Linked DNA regions of Homo sapiens. The protein of the gene in region 2 purifies or fractionates together with the protein of the main gene of each other region. This does not show direct contact. Each region holds a gene or a part of one and is shown on either strand. Other genes may lie near its edges. The genes, in order: ADGRG5 and PIGG.

Evidence for each region.
Region 1: the proteins of PIGG (region 2) and ADGRG5 purify together in Homo sapiens (co-immunoprecipitation; one large-scale study listed by IntAct). This does not show direct contact.

The regions. Positions count from the first base shown.
Region 1 is NC_000016.10:57,562,999-57,566,807, reverse strand, and holds part of ADGRG5 (adhesion G-protein coupled receptor G5 isoform 1 precursor), read right to left. Parts: intron 3,718-3,809; coding exon 3,561-3,717; intron 2,961-3,560; coding exon 2,829-2,960; intron 1,775-2,828; coding exon 1,658-1,774; intron 1,520-1,657; exon of another isoform or gene 210-1,519; coding exon 57-209; exon of another isoform or gene 1-56. UniProt on the Homo sapiens protein: Orphan adhesion G-protein coupled receptor (aGPCR). Ligand binding causes a conformation change that triggers signaling via guanine nucleotide-binding proteins (G proteins) and modulates the activity of downstream effectors, such as adenylate cyclase.
Region 2 is NC_000004.12:516,210-520,018, reverse strand, and holds part of PIGG (GPI ethanolamine phosphate transferase 2, catalytic subunit), read right to left. Parts: intron 3,681-3,809; exon of another isoform or gene 3,583-3,680; coding exon of another isoform or gene 3,543-3,582; intron 1-3,542.

The DNA.
Region 1 (3,809 bases), on a different chromosome or scaffold from region 2:
TGCCACAGACACAGGGCCCTCTGTAGCTCTGAGCCCCACTCAGGATGCATACATACCATGAGAACAGCAAAGTAGGTGAGGTGGTTGCAGCGGCAGAGCACCTGAGAGTGGGAGGGCTGCTCTGTACGACAGCCCTCAGGGCTCCAGCCCCCCCAGGGCTGTTTCCTGGCTCCCTCCTTCCAGAAGACACAGGTCAGGGTGTAGCCTTCCTGGGTGGAGATGCTGGGTCAGTCATAGGGTGCAGAGGAAAGGCTGCAGATCAGTGTCTGGGAGTCCTGGGGGCCAACGGTGACTCAACTGCACATTTGCCAACATTTTACCAGGCACTGGCTGGCCTTTGGCTTCAGACAGTCTCAGATTCCTGTCCCACCTCCACTGTGGGCTCTCAGAGTGACCCAGGCAAGACACCAAGTTGCTCTGAGCCTCAGTTTAGTCATCTACAGAATAGGATCATTCGTACCCATGTTACAACAATGGTGGAAAAACAAAGGGCAACACGGAATCTTGAGTGTCCAGCTCTGGCCTTTTATACAGTAGGCGCTCCATAACCAGCTGATCCCTTCCCTTCCTCCCCATGGGGAACAGCAATGTGCTCAGACCCACGCCTGGTTGGGGGAGACTCATCCACAGACAACCCTAATGCCAAGCCACGTGGGTGGAGAAGTGGAGGAAATGACACAGGTAGTCACGGAAGACCATGGAGGGTAGGCAGAGCTGACCCAAAGGGAGAAGGGGAGGTGGGGGCCCTGAACCCTTAGAGGACGTGTTGGATTTCAACACGAGTAGGGCAAGGGCATTCCAGGTGGAGGGAACCATAGTGGCAAAAGCCCAGAGCTGAAAGGAAAGGATGATGGTGAAATTTAGAGTGCAGGGCAGTCCTGGTGAAGCTGAAGGGAAGATGAAGCCAGAAAGCAGAGGCTCCGGGCTTTTCAGGAATGCCAGGAACCAGAAATGGAGGCACTGAGGCTTGTGAACCACCCCACTCTGCCCCCACCCCCAACAAGCAGCCCTGTCTCTGTTCCAGGATCAGCATCTGCACTTACCCTAGGAGCTCACTCCTTCACCCCAGTCCCTGGGCCGTGTGACCCAGGCCTGGCCAATCCACACATTCCATCCCCCTGGGCACAGTGACAGGTGCAGGGATGGACATGTGTGACCCAGCTGAACCTTTAAGATCCTGAGACCCTGATCTGCACTGGGGCAGGTTGTGGGTGGGGAGTCGGGGGAAGAGCCTGATGGGAAGAGGGAAAGGAAGTCTGGCTCTCCAGCATCCATCATGCCACAGAATGGACAGCCAAGACAGGAGACCATTGCTGAGACGGAGAGAGACTGAGCCACAAGGGCATCAGATCCATCCCTGGATCCAGCTATGTCTGAAGCTGGTGGATCACCTCTAGACATTTCATGGATGTGTGCCAATCAGTTCCCTCTGTGCTCAAGCTGGCTTGAAGTGGTCTTTTCTTACTTGCAACTGAAAGAATTCTGACAAATGCATGAGTAAAAACTTCTCTCTCTCTTATTTCTTGAGCAGGAATTTTCAAAGTGTGATGGATTTCCAAGATGGTTCCACAGGTTTGGGTCTAGTCAAACCAGTGTTCAACAGGAGAGTCACAGAGGGGCAGGGGTGCAGTGGAAACGGGGGCGCCCCCAGCAGTACCAGGCTTTGGTTGTGCCAGAAGCTGATGTTCACAGGATCCCTGAGGTTGTTCACGTGCCCATGACTCAGCTGGGCCCCCAGGACGTAGTTATTCAGCAGAGATGAGTTGTTTTCATCCTGGAAGGGCAGCAGGAGAAGGGCTGAGTGGAGGGGAAATGGGGAGGCCCTGGGTAAGGTCTGAGCTCCGCTTCCCTGGATGAGAACAAGCAGCAAGACTTTCACGTGTGCAGCGTGAAAGCTTTCTCAGCCTCCCAGCCTCCCAGCCTTCCCAGCCTCCCAGCCTTTGCATGTGCTGTTTCTGCCCTGTGGAAAGCTGTCCTCTCACCACCCCCTGCTCCACCTCCCATTCGTTTAATGCATTCCAGCCTCACGCCCTCCACCTCACCACTATCCTCACTCACTTTCAAAGCCAAGGTTGAAAGGCACCTTCCCCAGAAACTCCCCTGGACTGCCCACTGGGAAGAGCCCCAACCCCACCCTGACTCATCCATCACTCTGGATCTCTATGGCTATAATCAACCTTCTGCTGACATTAAATCTCTAAGATCAGGCCAGGCTCAGTGGCTCACGCCTATAATCCTAGCATTTTGGGAGGCCAAGGCAGGCGGATCACTTGAGGCCAGGAGTTCAAGATCAGCCTGGCCAACGTGGTTAAACCCGGTCTCTACTAAAAATACGAAAATTAGCTGGGCATGATGGCACACGCCTGTAATCCCAGGAGGCTGAGGCAGGGGAATTGCTTGAACCCAGGAGGCAGAGGTTGCAGTGAGCCGAGATCATGCCACTGCACTCCAGCCTGGGCAACAGAGCGAGACTCTGCCAAAAAAAAAAAAAAAAATCTGTAAGGTCTTAGTCTAGGCATCAAGACAGAGAGTTATCTGAGGGCAGGGAATAATAAGTGCCTTCTTGTCTGTCTCCCGCCTACCGACAGGCACATCGTAGGTTTCTTAGGTCTTATTTGCAGATTGTAATTATACCTTCCTACCATTCTGCTAAAGTTGGCAGGGAAACTGAGGCCCAGAGAGGGACAATTGCTGGCTTGGATTGCACAGATGGCTGGTTGGTCTCACTCAGTGCTGGTCACCCAGAGGCCAGGCAGTGACATGGGCACCTGCAGTGGATCCCAAGAAGGGGCCGGCACCCACCCTCCTTGGCCCGCCATCACACTGACCTTGAAAAAGTGGGTGTTGGAGAAGTAGATACAGATGAGCCGCAGCTCCCTGGGGCGGGTCTTGCAGGCGTCCCGGGTCAGCTCGGCGGGGAACTGCATGGCGTGCTGACCCCGGGCATGCTGACCTCCTGCCTGCAGAGGGTCGCAAACAGGCTGTTTGGCAACCAGGACCTGGAGACCTGACCCCAACACCTTCACTGCCTCCCACTCCCCGTGAAACCTTCCTTGGGGTTTCCACCCACAGAACCTTCTCCCCCCAGGCTGCATCTCCTCCCAAACTTCCCAAGATCCCAGGCCTTCCCTCCATGCTGTTCCTGAGTTTTGGATGTTTACCTGACCCACTGAACCCCTGAAGATGGAGCTACCTCAGCACCCAGCCCCAGCACCAGCCCCAGCCCCTGCCAGGGATCCAGCTGATCACCCCAGGGTCCTAAAAGGAGCCAGGGTTTCTGGCCTCTCCCACAGCGCCTCCCGCAGCGGGCAGCCTCCAGCCAAAGCAGGAAGAAGATTCTGCCCTGCAGGGGCAATAAAGCACCTCCCTTTCCACAGTTCACACAGCGAGTATGAGCCCCATTTTACAGAGGAGGCAACTCACTGCCAGTTAGGGCAGAGCCTGGACTGTGGGGTGTGGGGAGGAAGACAGTGGAGCCTAAAGAAAGTCCAGACCTTAAATGCCTGGAGGACTTCTAGGGCGGGGCAGCTGGCCACACCCCCCAACCCGCAGCCTCTGACCTGGGGCACCCGCTTCAGAGTGGCACTGGTCAGCGAGAGGCCAGAGAAGTCACAGCTCAGCTTGAAGGCCAGAGACTGGATGGTGGGTGTCTGCAAGGTCAGGTTGTAGCCTGGGAAGCTGGTGTTCAGTAGCATCTGCTCCAGCTGGTGGAGTTGACTGCAGCCCAGAGAGATGGCCAGGGAGGCCAGAGCCCGGAGTGGGGTAAGGGTGAGAGGGGGCTGTAGACAGCCTGGGAGGGCAGGGCCTCC
Region 2 (3,809 bases):
CGGCACCAGGTCCCTGAGCGTGAACCCACACGCCTGCAAGCACACCCGACTGCTGCAGGCACCAAGTCCCTAAGCATGAACCCACACGCCTGCAGGCCCACCCCACTGCTGCCGGCACCAGGTCCCTGAGCGTGAACCCACACGCCTGCAGGCCCACCCCACTGCTGCAGGCACCAAGTCCCTAAGCATGAACCCACACGCCTGCAGGCCCACCCCACTGCTGCCGGCACCAGGTCCCTGAGCGTGAACCCACACGCCTGCAGGCCCACCCCACTGCTGCAGGCACCAAGTCCCTAAGCATGAACCCACACGCCTGCAGGCCCACCCCACTGCTGCCGGCACCAGGTGCTCTGCACTAAGTGCCAGTAGCCAGCAACACTAGGCGGCTCGCTCGTTTCACCTCCCTAATGACCCTATGAGGCAGGGATGAGCATCAGAACTGTTATCCAGAGGAGGCAACTGAGACACAGAGGGTGAGTCACGCACCTGGGCCACAGTGCCAGTGGGTAAAAGCTGCAAATGAAACTCAGGCAGTCTGGTTCCAGGGCTGGCATCCTTCATTGCTACACCTACCACCCTGGATGGGGGGACGCCTGTGTCCACACCCCACCGCCTATCAGAGAGTCACAAAGCTATGGGGGTGCACCTGTGCATGCATCGAAACAAATATCCATGGAGCGTGGACGACGTGCCAGGCACTGTGCCAGGCGCTGTGCCAGGGGAGACACAGCATGGCGAGCAAGCAGGTGCAATCCTTGCCTGCTGGGGCTTGGATCCAGTAGGGCTCACAGACACGCACGCACGCACACAAGCGTAATTACAAACTGTGACTGCATTACAGCTGTAATTACAAGTTTCCCAGGAAGGAAAAGTAGAGGGTATCAATGAGGGATTTTTGGTAATGGGGAGGAACTGATTTTGGATTGGGAGTGGGCGCTGGACCAGGAAGGTCTGATGTTTACGCTGAAATGTAAACGGTACCCAGGAATTCGCCAGGCAAAAAACTGCAGGAAGAGCATCAAGCTGATGGGAACAGCATGTGCAAAAGTCCAGAGGTGAGAAAAAGCCGGTCCCACTACACTGAGAGAGCCGGGTGGGCACAAAGCCTCCAACAGACTGGACGCCACCGAGGGACTGCACGGGCCTGGCTGTGGGTTCTAAAACGTATTTCAGTGTCAGAACACATACCCCATTTTGTTTTAGGAAAAAGGATCCCCGACGGTGTAGACAATGGGCCGCCAGGGGGGGTTCCAGACGCTGTGGCTGTGTTTTCAGTCAAGGGAGGCTCCTGCATTCCTTTAACAGGCTGGTTTCCTCTCATATCCACTGTGGTTCCCATCTTCCCCCAGCCACTACTTCTGGAACAGGCAAATAACCCTTCCATTGTTGTTTTGATTTTGTTGGTATCTTTTTTGTTTTGTTTTTTGAGATGGAGTCTCGCTCTGTCACCCAGGCTGGAGTGCAGTGTCGCCATCTCGGCTCACTGCAAGCTCCGCCTCCCGGGTTCACACCATTCTCCTGCCTCAGCCTCCCGAGTAGCTGGGCCTACAGGCGCCTGCCACCATGCCCAACTAATTTTTTGTATTTTTAGTAGAGATGGGGTTTCACTGTGTTAGCCAGGACGGTCTTGATCTCCTGACCTTGTGATCCCCCCGCCTCAGCCTCCCAAAGTGCTGGGATGACAGGCGTGAGCCACCACACCTGGCCAATTTTGTTGGTGTTTTTATCACTCTTAGCGTAGAAAAAAGGACACAGTAACAAAACAAGCAATATGCAAAAGCTACCAAACTCATACTATTTTTTAAAAAACGAAAAGCACAAGTCACTGTTGTCCCTGGTCTTGACTAAAATGGCTCCATGGCCAAAGTCCTCCACCTCACAGGGTGAGAGCTGGTGCTCGGTGGGGCCTCCAGACACTCATCACATCCGGTTCCCAAGCACTCCTTGGCTGGCCAGGTTTGTCTTCCACACGTGACTCTAGGAGGCCGGTTTACATCTCAGCGCAAGCTTGTGGACGTTCACTCTATTTGGTAGTAATAGTATCCCTCTACTTCAAGTAGGGAAATCTGCCAACACCACATTAACTGCTGCCCCCAAATAGGAGTCGACTTCCTCCGGGCTCTCAAAGGAGTCCCAGTATCAAACATGATTCTTGATGAACGCGGCTGCGTCAGAGTCGATTGTCTGAAGACATCCCAGGGAGACAAACGTTCCTCTCCTGGACCCTTCCTGTAGCTGTCTCCTGGCACCTCCCTTGGCCCCACACCTGCCTCAGGCAACTCCACCTCCTACTCCCATTAGAGTCGCAGTGTCTGCTGCCTAGGGCTCTCGCCTGCCTAGTACCAGCCAGGCCTTCCCCCACTCTCCATCTGACGAAGCCACTCATCACCCTCCATGGCCAGATCCAAAGCTCAGTTCTCAATTCCTGATTTTATTCAATACCAACCTTTGACGCAGCTGCCCACTCCATGCTTCCTGAAATTACTTCTTTACATGGCTTCCTGGACACCAACACCCCCACCCACAAGCACCTGCCTTGCAGAACTGTTCCTCCTAAGTCGTGCCCTCCTGAGGAAATTATTACTCTCTTTGCTTTCAGCTGAAAGCCCCGGAGTCGTACCTAACGCCTCTGGTCTGCTCGTACCCAATATCGCAGCACGTGAGCAAATCCTGTCTTCATGACCTTCAGAATCTTTCCAGAATGCAACCACTTCTTCACCACCCTTGCCTGGGCCCTGGCCACCCTCACCTCTCACAGAAGTACAGCCACTGCCTCCTGACTGGTCTCCTCCTACAGCACAAAGCAGAATCCTCCACGAGGGCGCCTGAGACAGCCTTCGAAAATGCAAGTGGGAGACTCTGGCTCTCACCAAACCCTGCAGCAGCTCCCCATTTAACTCAGAATACAAGTGAAAGCCCTTCCAGCGCCCAGTGGCCCTCACCCCTTAATGCCATCTCCTCTGCCCTGCCCTTGCCACTCTGGCCCCTGCTCTGACCATCCCCTGAATGTGCGCCCCATGGAGGACCCTGTCTGCTGCCCCCACAGCCTGTAATGTGCCCTCCCAGATGGCCAGCGGCCAGCCTGCCCCAGTGGCTCCCCCACCCGCTTCACTTCCCACCCCACGCCTGTTTATTCCTTCTTTTTTTTTTTTTTTTTTTTTTTTGAGGCAGAGTCTTGCTCTGTTGCCAGGCTGGAGTGCAGTAGCGCGATCTCAGTTCACTGCAACCTCCACCTCCAGGGTTCAAGCGATTCTCCTGCCTCAGCCTCCTGAGTAGCTGGGATTACAGGTGCCCGCCACCATGCCTGGCTAATTTTTGTATTTTTAGTAGAGACGGGGTTTCACTGTGTTAGTCAGGCTGGTCTTCAATTCCTGACTTCATGATCCGCCTGCCTTGGCCTCCCAAAGTGCTGGGATTACAGGCGTGAGCCACCGCACCCAGCCCTGTTTATTCTTTTCCTAAGGTACTCGTCACCATCGGCCATCGATCACTTCCTTTTCTCTCCTCCCTCTGGAAGGTTCCATGAGGGCAGAGCCTCGTACCTGCTCTGTCTCCAGTGCCTGTTAACAGCCTCTCATTCATAACAAGATCCTGGTAAATAGTTGTTGAATGAATAAATTTATGAAAGAACTTTAGATAACTGCATCTGAGGGTGCTGCCAATGGTGATAGTTCAAAGTTCTAAGAAAACAGAAACACAATCTGTATCATCAAAGAGTAGTGATGAAAAAATACTCCTGTGACAAACTGCATACCACAGAAACACATCGGAGAAACCCGAGCTCAGTGGAAACACACAGCTCTGACAGA